Homo sapiens: one gene and its partners. The protein of the gene in region 3 purifies or fractionates together with the protein of the main gene of each other region. This does not show direct contact. Each region holds a gene or a part of one and is shown on either strand. Other genes may lie near its edges. The genes, in order: CSTF3, DUSP3 and CPSF2.

Region 1 (3,729 bases), on a different chromosome or scaffold from region 3:
CCTCCTAGATCACTTACAGAGAGGGCCCATGGGTGTTTTGTTTACCCACTCCTGGGAACCTGTTCTTGAGTGGGTAATACTCTTATCTTTCTCTCTACTCTTAAATAGTTTTTAGATTATATTAACAAAGTGGTATTTGGAAAAAGTAGGCATCTTGAACAGTCTTCCAAACTGATCTACCCCATCCGCCATATATCTCAGTTGTTCCTGGCTCACCAAAGAATTCTAAATCCTTGTTGTCTAGGAATATGAGACAGTAATGAAAGGCTTGGACCGTAATGCTCCCTCGGTGCCTCCTCAGAATACTCCTCAAGAAGCTCAACAAGTAGATATGTGGAAGAAATATATACAGTGGGAAAAGAGCAACCCTCTTCGTACAGAGGATCAGACCCTTATAACAAAAAGAGGTAACATGATTAACCCTCATGGGACTTCAGTTACATGTATGTTAGGCCACTTGGTATCCCCATAGGTTACTAAAATTTTCTTACCCCTAATCTTTTTTTCTTTTGTTCTTCAGATTCAATAATTCCTATAGATCTATCTCCATATTCACTGAACCTTTGTTTTCATCATATGCAGTCTGCAATTAAGCCCATCCAGTGAACGCTTTATTTCAGATACTATATTTTTCAATTCTATAAATTTCCATTTTAGAAATTTTTTATTTTTTATATTTCTTTTTTATGGTGTCCATTTCTTAGTTGAGATTCCTTGTGTGTTCATTACCATCTTTTTCTTTGTTTCTTAGAACATATTTATAATAGTAGTTATAAAGTCCTCATCTGCCAATTCCAACATCTGGGCCTTCAACCACCATGGAGTTTATTTTCTTTGATTGCTTTTTCTCTTGACTGTGGTTTACATTTCCCTATTTCCTGTTTAAATTTTTTCTTTTAGATATTGTACAAATGTACAAATGAAACATTGTAAAGACTGTAGATTCTGTCATCTTCCTCTGAAGAATGTTTTATTTTAGCAGGAAGTTAAATACTACTGTCAGATTACTTGGACTTTGTGGAGGCTTAGTTTTATACTATGAAGACAGGTCTGTTTTAGTTTTACCATTAATCTCAGATTAAATACCTTATTCTTGGGACATAGTCTTTACTCCTAAGACAATGAAAAGTCTAAGGTGTTTACCCCAACCATCTAATTGGATCGGACTCAAATTCTAAACTTCATCTCCCTTAGTTGCTGAGGTATCTATTTAACTCTTTCTGCCTTCCAGCTTTGTTTTCTGCTGGTCTGTTTGTATTCTTCCCTGTGTATGTACATTTTAGGGATCAGCTGAGGATTTGAGAACATTTATGCCCAGATTTTCGGGATCTGGCTTTCTCCTTTTGGGGATGTCTCCTCAATTTCCAGCTGCTCTCATAGGCCAGAACTCCATGTTACTTCAAGACAGTAAGACTGCAGCATTTGACTTGAGTTCTAGCTATCCCAGAAGTGCACAACATGGGCATGCGTTTGAAGGGAAAAGCCATATTTAAATATGGATCTCACCTAGTGTTGTTCTGTCTTTTTAAGGGCTCAGTCTCCTGATTTCTGCTTCTTTTGGTCATTTCCAGTACATTTAGATAGTTGCTTTTGTATTTGTGTTTTGTTTATTTATAATTTTTACTTGCTGAGGGTTGGTCTGATACAAACTACTCTGTCAGTGCCAGACTCTTAATTTGGAGCTTTATTGAATTCCTCAATCTTGCCTTGCTGTTGCCTTGCTATCTTACTTGCAGGTCTTTGCAAATATTGTTTCCTTTGCCCACTCCATTTTTGTATCTACCCCATCCTTACTCCACTTCACTTATTTGCCTCTGACCAGCTTCATCCCTTCTTCAGGTGTTGTGCTAGATGTCAGTTCCTTAGTGAAGCCTTTCTTGAGTCCCTAAACTATGTTAAGTCCTGCTGCTGTAAGTTTTCAGAGTATACTGTACTTTCATCATCATAATCCTTTTGATCTTTGCTTTCTGTCTGTCCTCCCCGTATACTGCAGACTTCTTGAATATAGGAAGTCTTACTCACTGGTATATTCACCGTGCCTTCCACATTCCCTGGCATATAGTTGGTGCTCAATAAGTATTAACTTAGGCTGGGTGCAGTGGCTCACATCTGTAATCCCAGCACTTTGGGAGGCTGAGGCAGGAGGATTGCTTGAGCCCAGGGGTTCAAGACAAGCCTTGGCAACATGGTGAAACCCCGTCTCTAAACAAGATTTTTTTTTTTTTTTTTGAGATGGAGTCTTGCTCTGTTGCCCAGGCTGGAGTGCAGTGGCGTGATCTCCACTCACTGCAAGCTGTGCCTCCCGGGTTCATGCCATTCTCCTGCCTCAGCCTCCAGAGTAGCTGGGGCTACAGGCACCCACCACCATGCCTGGCTAATTTTTTGTATTTCAGTAGAGACAGGGTTTCACCATGTTAGCCAGGATGGTCTCGATCTCCTGACCTTATGATCCGCCTGCCTTGGCCTCCCAGAGTGCTGGGATTACAGATGTGAGCCACCGCACCTGGCCACAAGATTTTTAAAAATAAGCCAGATGTGGTGGCACACGCCTGGTCTCAGCTACTTGGGAGGCTGAGGCAGGAAAACCACTTGAGCCCAGGAGGTCGAGGCTGCAGTGAACCATATTTGTGCCACTGCACTCCAGCCTACGTGACAGAGACCCTGCTTCCAAAAATAAAAAAAATTAATAAGTGATGGATAGATGGAGGGAACTTGGATGGATGATGGTGCCAGAAATCACTAAAGCTTTTTATTTCTAATTATCATTAATTTTTGAGGAGCCTAATTTGGTTATGATATTTACATTGATAGTTTTACAAATAATAATTATTTTAATTGAATATTGTTTGTTAATTTCTTCCCTTAGTTATGTTTGCTTATGAACAGTGCCTGCTTGTGCTGGGCCATCACCCTGATATTTGGTATGAAGCTGCCCAGTATCTTGAGCAGTCAAGTAAACTGCTCGCAGAAAAGGGAGTAAGTGTTCCTTCCCTATCCCCACTTTGATATTTTTGTGGTTTTGATATAGCAATTATTTACTGAAAAATATAACTGAATTTTGGTAATAAAGCATAAGTATTGAAAATTTAAGTTTACGTTCATATGAATCTTAGTGACACTCATATAATTAGACCTCCTTAGAATTAAAATAAACTGGCAGTTTTTTAACGTATCAAAGTAATGAATCATTTAGAGTACTTGCATGGTTATTTTGTAAGTTAAAATAATGAAAGGAGTTTTTGGAATTTTTTTAGAATCCAGAAATGCATATGTGTTTATGTATGTGTGTGTGTGGATACATATATATGTGTGTACATACATGTATGCTTTCTTAGACACATAAATAAAATAAAGTAGATGTAACTTTATTAATTTTATTCTCTCACAACTATATTAAAATTATTGAAGATGAGCTTTCTTTTTTTTCTACCAGGATATGAATAATGCCAAATTATTTAGTGATGAAGCTGCTAATATATATGAAAGAGCCATAAGCACTTTATTGAAGAAGAATATGCTTCTTTATTTTGCATATGCAGATTATGAAGAGGTAAGTAAAAATGTTTAGAGCCTTCTTATAATTCAATTTTTTAGTGCAGGACTGAACTTTTTTTCTGGCTGCTTGTTTGCCAGGCATATTGCTTTTGGTAGACAGAGATGATGCCAAATGAACAGTTATTAGTTGTCAGCTTATACTATATTTATGCTCAATGGAGATGCCATTGGGGG
Region 2 (3,729 bases), on a different chromosome or scaffold from region 3:
AGCCCAGATGCCACCTCCTCCATGAAGCTGTTTTCCCAGCTAGAAGTGACTGCTCCCTCTTGAGTACCCTCAGCCATCCCACCCAGCTCTCAGTGATGGGTCCCTGGGCCCCACACACTGTTGGAGGCCAGCATGTTTCTGTTGACTCACTTCGCCACTCATTCTTAGAAGCATTTATACTTGGCATTAGAGCCCATGGAATTCTTCATCACTTGCTCATTCATCATTTGCAGTGTACCTACTATGTGCCTGATGCTACATCAGGTGCTAAGGAGACAGACAAGGAACAAAGTAGACCCAGCCTGAGGGCAGGCTTCATGGAAGAGAGGACACCATGCCAAGGACAAGGTGGAGTTTGCCAGAGGAAGGGGTAGGGAGAGGCAGAGAGAACTTTTCAGACTAAAGACCCAGCACACCTGGACTGAGACAGGTCAAAAAAAGGGCGTGTTCCTAGTTGTTTGGAAAGAGGAAACAAAGTCAGAGAGCTTGAAATTCCCTGAATGAATAACCAATTGCTATTATACGAGAACAACAAAATCCTTCCCCTTCGCCCAGCCTATGTTTACACAGGGTGAGGAACTCAGTACAGCTGGAGTGGAGGAGGTGAGCAGGGTTGGGGGGTGACAGTGACCAGGAAGGACCATGAGGGGCCTGTCAGCAAAGTCTGCAGATACTCCACAGTAAAGCTTCTCTCTGAGCCCTGAGCGTTCACTGTCCAGTGGTCTAGAAAATTCTGTTTACTGGAAATCATTCAGACAGTGAGCCTGCTGGGCCCAAGAGTCATCAGTGTAGTACAGCCAAGGCTGTTCACACCTCATGGGGGTCCCCTCCGCTGGGAGGGTTTGGGGTGGGGAGAGACGAAGAGGTAAAGGGAGGAGCTGAGAGAAACAGCTAAAAGCAGAAAGGGAGAAAGGGCAAGTGGCCCAGCCTGCTCAGCTGATGTCTGCTTTGTGGCCTTCTAGGGTTTCTTGCTGGAATGCCTTGGTGACTGCCAGCGCCTTGGTAGTTCTCCTTCAGTCTTATCTTATATTTGGGGGCTGCAGGAAGTGTTTCGTAAGTGGCTGGAAGATTTGGCCAGGGGGGCTGTGGTTTGCTGACTGCCAACCTAAGCTGACCGCAGCTACCCCTTTTCTCCTTGCCAGGCAATCACGTGAATCTCTAGCCAATGAGATGTGAGGGGTATTTCTGGGAAATGTTTTACTTGTTCTTAAAGAGAGAGACTGGGCATGGTGGCACGTGCTTGTAGTCCCAGCTACTCAGGAGGCTGAGGTGAGAGGACTGCTTGAGCCCAGGAGTTGGAGACCAGTCTAGACAACATAGCAAGACCCTGTCTCTTTAAAAAAGAGAGAGAGAGTGGCCAGGCGCGGTGGCTCATGCCTGTAATCCCAGCACTTTGGGAGGCAGAGGGAGGCGGATCACCTGAGGTCAGGAGTTGGAGACCAGCCTGACCAACATGGTGAAACCCCATCTCTACTAAAAATACAAAATTAGCCAGGCGTGGGGGCGCATGCCTGTAATCCCAGCTACTTGGGAGGCTGAGGCGGGAGGCTGAGGCAGGAGAATCGCTTGAACCTGGGAGGTGGAGGTTGCGGTGAGCCAAGATCGCGCCATTGCTCTTCAGCCTGGGCAACAAGAGTGAAACTCCATCTAAAAAAAAAAAAAAAAAAAAAAAAGGAGAGAGAGAAGAGGAAAAAAAAGAGTGGGAAGAGATGGCTGCAGGGCCTCATCTGCTGTACTTTGTCCTGCTTGGATGTGGTGACTGGATCCCATCTTGGGACCATGACGGGAGCACCCAACACTGAGGTGGCAGAAGAGAGAAAGGGAAAGGGCCTGGTCCAGAGGCCACCATGGAGCTGCTGAATCAAGCAGCCCCTTAATCAACCAGCCCCCATGCTCCTTCACCTCAGGACTTCTTGCCATGCACATTAACACATTAACACATCTTCCTCATCGTTACAGCTGTTTGAATGGGGGACGTGTAAGCAACTGGAAACCAACCTCCAGCCAAAGTGCAGTCAAACGCGAGGACCCTGGGGCTGCCATGGTGTGAATGAGTTGCACATCCTGTGACACACGGGGCCACTTGACAGCCAGCCAGGTGAGCAGAGAGAGACCTACAGCTCTGTCGTTCACCCCAGAAGATGGGAAACAAGGGAGTTTCTAAGAAGAGACCTGTTGTGGGCCTGTTTTCCAGAGGGACAGTCCAGTCAGAGCTGCCTCCCATCTTTTCCTGGTGGGAGGTCCCTTACCATTCTTTTGAGCCAAAGCCTGGTCAATGAAGTCGGCAGCCCTTTCAAAGTAAGCGCTGAGGTTGAACTCCTGTGTGTCGTTGGCCTTGATGCCCAGGTATGTGATGCCGGAGTCCTTGTAGAAGTTGGCATTGGTGTTGACGTGCATGAAGGACCTGCCCTCAGCCGCGTTCAGCACATGGGTGATGCCTAGTTTCTGCAGCTTGGGGATGTCCTGAGCCACAGACCTGGACAGGAGACAGTGGTGGGGATGATTAACCAACCAAATGGCAGCCCCAGGGGGAGGAAGATGGAGAAGGATTTAAGCCTCTTAGCAAAGCAAGGAAACCCTCCATGCTCTGGCCCCTGCCAGCTTCTCCTGCCTCATCTTATGACCTCTTCCCTCACTCTGGCCATATCGAATTGCCAGCAGCTTCCCCAAATAGACTGGTGGTTTCATAGCCATGCTGTCCCCTCTGTCTGGAATGCTCTTTCCCACCTTCTCTGGAGAAATGCGCCCTCTCATCTTTCACACCCTCCGCAGTGTTTGTCTCCCCTCCATTCCATTTGGCCCCATGCTCCCTAAGCTGTGGTGGGGGTGTACATAGCCAACTGGTTACAGATGGGCTCTGGAACCAGACTAACTGGGTCTGCATCCTGCCCAGGTACTAGCCAGGCAACCTTAAGCAAGCCATTTAACCTTTCTGTGCCTCAGTTTCCCTCTCTGTAAAATGGGGATAACAGTGCCTTCTCCTTGAGGTTGTTATGAGTATTAAATGGGCTATTCCATTGACAGAGCTGGACACGGTAGTGAGCACTATGATTCTAATGCTTGATTGTGCTTCTGTGTTTAGACATCCAGACTGTGAGCTCCTTGAGAGAGGAACCATGTCTGCTTTAAGTCTGTTTCCCCACCATCTGCTATAGTACCTGCTACATAGTAGGTGCTGAATAAATAAGCGGTGAATGAGTGCAAAAGAATAAATTTGTCACGTACCAGGCAGCCCCCTCCCTGCCCCCAGAGGGATCCTACCTGCCACATTCCACTGGCTACGTTTCCAAAGCTCTTTTGGGTGATTTAGTACTTGGGGAGTAAGTGGCCCCAACAGAACTATGGGAGGTTACAAAATAATTTATCTAAGGTCGGGTGCAGTGGCTCACACCTGTAATCCCAGCACTCTGGGAAGCCGAGGCAGGTGGATCACCTGTCAGGAGTTCGGGACCAGCCTGGCCAACATGGTGAAACCCCGTCTCTACTAAAAATACAAAAGTGAGCCGGGTGTGGTGGTACATGCCTGTAATCCCAGCTACTCTGGGATTACAGAGGCTGAGACAGGAGAATCACTTGAACCCGGGAGGTGGAGGTTGCAGTGTGCTGAGATTGTGCTATTGCACTCTAGCCTGGGTGACAGAGTGAGACTCCGTCTCGAAAAATAAAATAAAATAAAATAAAAATAATAATTGGTCTGAATGGTGAAAAGGCCCCTTTATTTCATCTCAC
Region 3 (3,500 bases):
ATGAGCTGGGCCTGAAGACATTGAGCAGTGATGTCAGGGTGGCTTCCTGGCAACCTCCATTGCCAGTTAAGGCATTTGGTTTGTCTTTTCTCAAGCAGTAAGAAGCCTTCAGAGATTTCTGAGCAAGGGGTAATAGGTGCAGGGTATTTCTGAAGATGAATCTGGTAGCAATGTTTAGGTTGGATGAAGGGAGGAAATACTGGAGGCAGAGAAACTGAGAAACCCAAACATAAGGTAGTGAGGCCCTTCCTGTATTAGGGTACTGGCAGTGGGATAGAAAGGGAATGATGTGCAAAGCGTTCCTGAGGGAAGAATAATCAGGAACTGGTAATAATAGACTGTCCCAGAAGTGAAGAATCAGCATGTAGCATTTCAAACCTTGGTTACTTAGATAACAACTAATATATTCATGTCGCAGAGCTATAAAATACAATTTGAGACTGAAGAAATTTGGTCACAAGATAGAATCAGTAACGTTAGGAAGGGGTGGTCCACTAAATACTTTCGCTTTTTATCTCCCTGCTTTCTGTATCATCTCATCAATCATACACACCAGCTAATATCCCCAAAATACAGAATTACCTGTATCATGCCATCTTTCTACTTGATAATGAGTCTTAAAATGTTTCTGTTGCCTGCAGGACTAGGTTCACAGTTTCCAAGGCCTTTCACTATCTGGCCCCTTTCTGTTCATTAGGCCTTATCTTTTATTTTTTGCTTTTGTGAATGTTTTCCAGGCTAGTTTTTTCACTGGTACTTTAAAACTTACTCAAAAGTGTAGAGATCTGAGATGTCTGGTATTCCTTTACTCCTGTTACTCCTCTGTTTTGAGTACCTTCTCTTTGTTTCTACCCATGTCTTACCAATCCTTAGTGAGTAATCTTAAATCCCACCTCTTCTATGATTCTCAATAACATAAGGTAATGTCAACTTAAAAAAAAACTTCCTAAATATTTTTATGTCTTTTATTATCTGTTATGTAAGCTTAAGATTCCTAAAATTAATGACAGATCTCTTTTTTAAAAAAGGACCACGTATTATACTACTTGCTGCTGCTCCTGATGCCTTAGGGCAAGATACAAATTAAACACCATAATTATAAACAGAATGAAATCATAATACCACATTCATAAGGCTTTTATTTATTTTTTAGATTAATAAAGAACTCTTCAGAATTCCTGGTGTTTCATCATATATACGACTAAGATATCAGTAAGTAGTGAATGTTTGATAAAGATATAGCTTTATTATGAATAATTGTAGTGAAAATATCTTTTCATCTGTTGAAATCTTGGTCTGTCTGCAAAACAGTTTTAATATGAACTTACTCAGTTCTAGCTGCAAGATACCTTGCATGTTACTTCATAATCTAAATGAAGAAAGTGGGAATTAAGGAAGACTTAAGTAGAAAAGAGTTTCCCTTAGGCCATTAATATAATTGTGGTACAGTAAGCTTTTTGACAGGGATAATTTCCAAGGTCCTTTCCAAAATTGTATTTATAAACGTTTTTCATCAAATAGAGAATTAATGTCTTTGTACCCCAAATAAGAACACATGAAGGCCAGGCGTGCTGTCTCACACCTGTAATTCCAGCATTTGGGGAGGCCAAGGTGGGTGGATCACTTGAGCCCAGGAGTTAAAGACCAGCCTGGGCAACATAGTGAAACCCTGTCTCTACAAAAAATTAGCCGAGTGTGGTGGTGCGTGCCCGTAGTCCCAGCTACCCAGGAGGCTGAGGTGGGAGGATCACTTGAGCCCAGGAGGTTGAAGCTGCAAATGAGCCATGATTGCACCACTGCACTCCAGCCTGGGTACCAGAGCAAGATCCTGTTTCAGGAAACAAAAACAAGTCAATATATTTTAAATTTTAACTTACCAACAGTTATTTATTGAACAACCACTATGTGCAGGGATGTGCTAATGTACTAAGGATAAAAAAATGGATCAAGCCAACTCCTGTACTCAGAGAGCTCTCCCAAGCAAGGGCAAATACATGTGGATGGGTTCTGGTTTATGGTGTGGTAAGGACAGTGAGCTTATTTAATACTAGCCATGCCCCATTCCTTCCTTTAAGAAACATTTATCGGCTACCACTGTATATTAGGCACTGTGGAGGCGCTGGAATGTAACTGTGATGAAAACAGAGAAGGTCTTTACCTTCATGGAGTCTGCATTCCAGTGTGGGCACAGGAGGGGAGAAGGTGACAGACAAAGCAAGTAAATAAATAAGTAGCAATTAGAGAGCACTAAGTATTTTGAGGGAAATAGAATGATGTTGTAATGGATGTGAAGAAGGACTTTAGGGTGGTCAGAGAATGACTACCTCTGAGAATGACTCAGAATAAATTAGAGACAGGGAAAATATATATAAAAGTTAGAGGTTTTGGTCACAGTGAAGAGAGAAGAAAATTTGAGAAATATAATGAGTTGTTATGAAAGTATATCACTGGAAGTGTTTTATAAAGGTCATTGATAAACCTCTATACAACTTAAGCCAATGGACATTTCTCTGGCTTCTCAGACTTAGTGCAAATGGGAGGTGAGGAAGTGGAGATATATCTGTGGACAAATATTCTGAGAACTTTTGCTGTGAAAGGGAAACCCAAAAATGATGTAGTGGTTGTTGGGGGTTGAAGGGTTAAGAGAGGGTTCTTATAAGTTGGGAAATTCTAGAGTATTTTTATAAGCTTGTGGGAATGGTACATCAGTGATACGTTGATGCAGGGGAAAGAGCGAATGACTGAAGATGTCAAGTCTTTCAGAAGGTGAATAAGAATGGGATCAACGGCACACATAGAGGGATTGGCCTTGGATGGGAGCAGGACTATTCTATACAACAGGAGACCCAACAGTGTACATGCAGATAGGTTAATAGATGTAGTATCTGGAAAATGAGAAATTATTGTCTAATTTTATTTTCTGATTGAAGAATGAAATGAGATTATCAGCTGAGACTAGGGTGGAGGGAGGGATGGGTGATCTTTGAACAAAGAGGAGGAGGTGTGGAGTAGTAGTCTCAGAAACTGAAAGTCAACCTACTAAGAAAAGTCAGATTGAAGGGTAATACTTACGGCCTGTTTGAGGCCTTTGGCCATGAATTTAAAGAGCAAATAGCGTTAGCCAGGTGTGGTGGCAGGTGCCTGTAATCCCAGCTACTCGGGAGGCTGAGGCAGGAGAAATACTTGAACCCAGGAGGTGGAGGTTGCAGTGAGCTGAGATCTTGCCACTGTATACCAGCCTGGGTGACAAGAGTGAAACTCTGTCTCAAAAAAAAAAGAAAAAAAATGGGCCAGGTGGATCATGAGGTCAAGAGATCGAGACTATTGTGGCCAACATGGTGAAACTCCGTCTCTACCAAAAAGAATTAGCTGGGCGTGGTGGTGCATGCCTGTAGTCCCAGCTACTCAGGTGGCTGAGGCAGGAGAATCACTTGAACCCGGGAGATGGAGGTGGCAGTGAGCCAAGATCGTGACACTGCACTCCAGCCTGGCAACAGAGT

What was found.
Region 1: the proteins of CPSF2 (region 3) and CSTF3 purify together in Homo sapiens (affinity purification with western blotting; one study listed by BioGRID). This does not show direct contact.
Region 2: the proteins of CPSF2 (region 3) and DUSP3 purify together in Homo sapiens (affinity purification with mass spectrometry; one large-scale study listed by BioGRID and IntAct). This does not show direct contact.

The regions. Positions count from the first base shown.
Region 1 is NC_000011.10:33,098,855-33,102,583, reverse strand, and holds part of CSTF3 (cleavage stimulation factor subunit 3), read left to right. Parts: intron 1-244; coding exon 245-407; intron 408-2,866; coding exon 2,867-2,976; intron 2,977-3,433; coding exon 3,434-3,550; intron 3,551-3,729. UniProt on the Homo sapiens protein: One of the multiple factors required for polyadenylation and 3'-end cleavage of mammalian pre-mRNAs.
Region 2 is NC_000017.11:43,772,463-43,776,191, forward strand, and holds part of DUSP3 (dual specificity protein phosphatase 3), read right to left. Parts: intron 2,477-3,729; coding exon 2,250-2,476; intron 1-2,249. UniProt on the Homo sapiens protein: Shows activity both for tyrosine-protein phosphate and serine-protein phosphate, but displays a strong preference toward phosphotyrosines. Specifically dephosphorylates and inactivates ERK1 and ERK2.
Region 3 is NC_000014.9:92,124,969-92,128,468, forward strand, and holds part of CPSF2 (cleavage and polyadenylation specificity factor subunit 2), read left to right. Parts: intron 1-1,153; 5' UTR 1,154-1,212; intron 1,213-3,500. UniProt on the Homo sapiens protein: Component of the cleavage and polyadenylation specificity factor (CPSF) complex that play a key role in pre-mRNA 3'-end formation, recognizing the AAUAAA signal sequence and interacting with poly(A) polymerase and other factors to bring about cleavage and poly(A) addition.